Regions from separate parts of the Homo sapiens genome. Here region 2 is linked to region 1. Evidence: fine-mapped expression QTL. Tissue or cell type: blood mononuclear cells. Region 1 holds a variant in brackets; the other region holds the start of a gene. All regions are shown on one strand. Distances are between the middles of the regions.

What was found. PIP is the estimated chance that this variant, and not a neighbour inherited with it, causes the effect.
Region 2: PLAAT5 starts here. The variant in region 1 is fine-mapped to the expression of PLAAT5 in blood mononuclear cells (TOPMed, PIP above 0.99).

The regions. Positions count from the first base shown.
Region 1 is chr11:63,549,983-63,552,741 of GRCh38, reverse strand. No RefSeq gene overlaps it. Among named protein-coding and RNA genes, the nearest start is that of PLAAT2, 12 kb to the left of the region's middle. The variant C/T (reference allele first, on the strand shown) is at 1,414.
Region 2 is chr11:63,489,959-63,492,587 of GRCh38, reverse strand. It overlaps PLAAT5 (phospholipase A and acyltransferase 5), which reads left to right and starts at 1,421. Exons shown (of 6, transcript NM_001146729.2): 1 at 1,421-1,701; 2 at 2,255-2,345. The coding sequence starts at 1,554.

The DNA.
Region 1 (2,759 bases):
CACTCCAAATTCATATGTTGAACTCTAACCCACCTGTGGGATGGTATTGGAGGTGGGGTCACTGGGAGGTAATTAGGTTGTGAGGGTAGAGCCTCTAGGATGGATTTAGTGTTCTTATATGAAAAGGAAGAGACTAGACCGGGCACAGTGGCTCATGCCTGTAATCCCAGCACTTTGGGAGGCCAAGGTGGGAGGATCACCTGAGGTCAGGAGTTCGAGACCAGCCTGGCCAACGTGGTGAAACCCCATCTCTACTAAAAATACAAAAATTAGCCAGGCGTGGAGGCAGGTGCCTGTAATCTCAGCTACTCGGGAGGCTGAGGCACGAGAATTGCTTGAACCCGGGAGGCAGAGGTTGCAGTGAGCCAAGATCATGCCATTGTACTCCAGCCTGGGCGGCAGAATGAGACCCTGTTTCAGAAAAAAAAAAAAAAAAAAGAAAAAAAGAAAAGGAAGAGACCAGAGCTGGCACTCTCTCCACCACGTGAGGATCTAGTGAGAAGGTGGCTGTCTGCTAGCCAGGAAGATTCTCCAGGTGCTCTCAGCATAGCTCTCACCCTGACAAGTGGCTGCCCTGAACACTTACTCCCTCCACCGCCCCAGGGAAGCACAGGTCTCCCCCTGGAGGATGCTTCCGGGGTGCATCCGCCATCTTTGGTCCCACCAATTTCTTCACAGGAAGTGAGAGAATGGGGGGCTGAGCAGCTCCTGACCTTTCTGCCCACAGCTTCAAGCTTGCACTGAGTGATGCTGCTCCAAGGCCTGAGCCTGCGAAATCTGCAGTGGGCAGACAGGAGCTGTCCTGGGACATCAAGCAAGGCTGCGAGTGAGACTGCCCATGCAAGTCTCATCAGAGAACATTCCAGTGGCCTGGCCCAGAAAACTGACTTTTAGGTCAAATTGACTGGAAGGGAATCCAGAGCTTTTGCTTAGTGGCTGTGTGACCTTGGGTCAGTGGCTTAGACTCTGAATCTAGTTTCCGTCCACACAGTATTAAAACTGCCCACCTCCCGGGAACTATGGAGATCATGTAGCCTGAGAATGCGGCTAGTGATTTTGACTTCGGAGTGTGTAAACAGAACAGCTGTTGTGGTCAATTTGAGCACGCTTTCCAAAACAGAGATGGCAGGAGAAGCTGTGTTTAACATCCCTTTGTGTCCGGAATTGCTGGGTTCTTGGTCTCACTGACTTCAAGAATGAAGCCGCGGACCCTCGCGGTGAGCATTACAGCTCTTAAGGTGGCGCGTCTGGAGTTTGTTCCTTTTGATGTTAGGATGTGTTCGGAGTTTCTTCCTTCTGGTGGGTTCGTGGTCTCGCTGGCTCAGGAGTGAAACTGCAGACCTTCGCGGTGAGTGTTACAGCTCTTAAGGCAGCACGTCTGAAGTTGTTCCTTCCTCCTGGTGGGCTGGTGGT[C/T]TTGCTGGCTTCAAGAGAGAAACTGCAGATCTTCGCGGTGAGTGTTACAGCTCATAAAAGCAGTGTGGACCCAAAAAGCGCGCAGTAGCAAGAGTTATTGCAAAGAGTAAAAGAACAAAGCTTCCACAATGTGGAAGGGGACCCGAGCAGGTTGCCACTCCTGGCTCGGGCAGCCTCCTTTTATTCTCTTGTCTGGCCCCCGCCCCTCCCGCCCCTCCCGCCCCCATCCTGCTGATTGGTAGAGCAGAGTGGTCTGTTTTGACAGGGTGCTGATTGGTGCGTTTACAATCCCTGAGCTACATATAAAGGTTCTCCACATCCCCATCAGATTAGTTAGATACAGAGTATGGACACAAAGGTTCTCCAAGGCCCCACCAGAGCAGCTAGATACAGAGTGTCGATTGGTGCATTCACAAACCTTGAGCTAAACACAGGGCGCTGATTGGTGTGTTTACAAACCTTGCGCTAGATACAGAGTGCCGATTGGTGTATTTACAATCCCTGAGCTAGAAATAAAGGTTCTTCAAGGCCCCAACAGAGCAGCTAGATACAGAGTGATGATTCGTGCACTCACAAACCCTAAGCTAGACACAGGGTGCTGATTGGTGTGTTTACAATCCCTGAGCTAGACATAAAGGTTCTCCACGTCCCCACCAGACTCAGGAGCCCAGCTGGCTTCACCCAGTGGATCCTGCACCGGGGCTGCAGGTGGAACTGCCTGCCAGTCCCGCGCGTGCGCCCACACTCCTCAGCCCTTGGGTGATTGATGGGACTGGGTGCTGTGGAGCAGGGGGCAGCGCTCGTCGGGGAGGCTCGGGGTGCACTGGGGCCCACGGAGGTGGGGGAAGGCTCAGGCATGGCAGGCTGCAGTCCCGAGGCCTGCCCCCTGGGAAGGCAGCTAAGGCCCAGCGAGAAATCGAGTGCAGCGCCAGTGGGCTGGCACTGCTGGGGGACCCAGTACACCCTCTGCAGCCGCTGGCCCGGGTGCTAAGTCCCTCATTGCTCGGGGCCGACAGGGCCGGCTGGCTGCTCCGAGTGCGGGGCCCGCCAAGCCCACGCCCACCCGGAACTCCAGCTGGCCAGCAAGTGCCGCACGCAGCCCCGGTTCCCGCTCGTGCCTCTCCCTCCACACTTCCCTGCAAGCTGAGGGAGTGGGCTCCGGCCTTGGCCAGCCCAGAAAGGGGCTCCCACAGTGCAGCGGTGGGCTGAAGGGCTCCTCAAGTGCCACCAAAGTGGGAGCCCAGGCAGAGGAGGCGCCGAGAGCGAGCGAGGGCTGTGAGGACTGCCAGCACGCTGTCACCTCTCACCTTTCTTTGATGGGCTAGAGACAGATCCCAGGGCCCTAT
Region 2 (2,629 bases), 60 kb after region 1:
GTGGAAGTGGCTAGGTAGCTCTGCAGGACCTCCTTTATAAGGGCTCTTATGAATCCCACTCATGACCAAAGGGCCCATCTCCTGATACCATCACTTTGGGGGTTAGAATTCTAGCACATGAATTTTATGGAGTCACAAACACCCAGACCATAGCACCATTTTTATAAAGTTTCAGAGAAGCAAAACAAAGTGATGTATTAGGGATACAAAGAAGCGATTTAAAAAACTATTTTAAAAAGTGAGGGTATGACAGACACAAAGGTCAGGATAGACGTTGGGCGTGCAGAGGGAGAAGGGATAAGGAAGGAATCCATAGGTGGGGAGCATCTGTACTAGGAATGTTCCATTTCTTACGTAGGATGGTTTTGTCATGGGTAGTAATTACATTATGTTTCCTAACTGTGTGCGAGAGAGAAGGAAAGAGAAAATCAGTTGGGGAAGACTCAATGCAGAAGCGGCCTGCCTGAAAAGTCACAGCAACAGGCAAAAATAAAACAACCTGGTAAAAAACTCAGGCTCCACCTGCACACAGATAAGCAGACAGGGTCCAGCACAGAAGCCTTTTGTTCTTTGTATAATTAGGGAGCTCCCAGGAAAGTTTTCTCCCCTTTTCAGGCATATACATGGTGGGAACTTTCACAGGGAGGAGGGGGGCTTACCTAAAACAAACCCACAGTTATGCAAACAAAAAAGGCGGTGCTTTGTGCTTGCATAGATACATAACCACAGCTGCGTAAGACAGCTTTACTGATAAGAGAAGTTACTCAAACTACTACAGAGATAAGAGATTTTCTTGCAAAAGCTTTTGAATTCAGCTGTAACAGGGCAATCCACTTGCATACTCAGCTCACTGTGGAGAGCTTTCTTCTTTCGCTTATTAAACTTTCGCTCCCACCTCACCTTATGTCCCGTTCCTTAATTTTCTTGGAGTAGGACAAAGAATCCCGGGTATCAGTCCAGACAAGGAGAAACTGCTACATTAAGGTACATTGGCAAGACTGCAACATGTGTATTCCATGTACTTTTTCATAAGTTATCTATTACGTAAGTGTAGATTTCATTTTCTATATATTTTTAAAAATAAAACAACTCTGAATTGTTCAAGATTTTAACCCCTGATTGTGCCTCCCAAGGCTTCCTAATCTGGTCTCCATTTACCCCTCCAAGTCACGCCTCTGTTCCAAACCGTTCAGCTTCTCCAGCCACTTTAGGCACCACCTCTGAGCCTTTGCTGTTTCCATGACCTTCCCCAAAACGAATAACCTCCTTCGCCCCTCTCCGCCTAAAAGACCCACAGATTCCCGGGCCTCTAAGCGCCCCGTTTCGTCCCATTCTGTTCTCGGACGCGCTCACTGCGCCCGCGCCACTGTCGCCACCCCGCGCGCCTCTGCCGTTTGCAGCCCGCGGCGCTTTCCCCTCCGCGGTTCCTCCCCGAGCCGCCCCCAGTGCCCAAGCTTCCGCGGCTCCGCCGACCAGGGGCCGCGCCGACTGGGAACTCGCCAGGGGCGTAGTCCCCTGCAAGGCCTGGGGGCCGGCGAGGCCGCAGAGGCGGGATGGGCCTGAGCCCGGGCGCCGAGGGGGAGTACGCGCTCCGCCTCCCTAGGATTCCCCCACCCCTCCCCAAACCCGCCTCGCGAACCGCCAGTACCGGGCCCAAGGACCAGCCGCCTGCGCTCAGACGTTCAGCTGTGCCCCACTCAGGTCAGCCCCAAGAATGCGGCTGAAGGACAATCCGCAATTGTCCTTCAGGTCCCAGCGGGCGGTTACCCTCAAAGCTCCTTTTCTTAAGACATTTGGCGATTGTGTTGTCTGTTAGCCATCATGAGCGAGTATTTCAGAACGACCGCTTGTTATAAAGCTAATCAAAGCGAGCCAGGCAGCCACTCCCTCCTTCCCGCTATATCTCATATGGAAGTGAGGCAGTGGTGGCAGCTCCGGAGGGTGGTGTTAAGACCGGCTCTGGCTCGGCAGAGGTTCCTCCCATCGGGCTTAGGATAGAGGCGAGGCGCCCTTCTTCATCCTCTCCCCGATTCCGTTCCCAGGAATCCCAAAGTCTCTCTTTGGCAGAGGAACTGAACCCGCTCCAGCACCTAGTTCCACAACCCTCTCCATTCATCCCAAGATTTTCTGAGGCCTAACCAGGGGCCAGGCACGATGCTAGACTAGAGCTCTGAGCCCACTCTCCGTAGCGGTCAAGGTGCTTGCTCGAACTCTCCTTTCACAGGTCTAAATAGCATTTCCCCCCTTGAATTAGAAGAATCCGTGGGATTCGCAGCGTTGGTCCAGCTCCCAGCCAAGCAGCCTCCGCCGGGCACATTAGAACAGGGCAGAAGCATCCAGCAAGGGTAAGAAGATTGTAAGGTTGGGGTCTTTGGGTGGAAGAAATCTTTTGGAGAATTGACTTGGAATGCAGTTCTGTAAAACAAACCCAGAGGTGGTTTTTGTGTGAACCAGCCAGCCGGTACCCAGCAAGGGGAAGGCTGGTGTGATCCTGGGTGATAACAGATGGTACTGGGCTTGGGACCTGCTGGCCACAGGCATGCGTTGCAGCTGTTTCTAGCCACAAGGCCATTCTCTAGACCCCAGAGAAATGAATGGCTTTAGCAGGAGGCTTACAGTATTGTCCTTG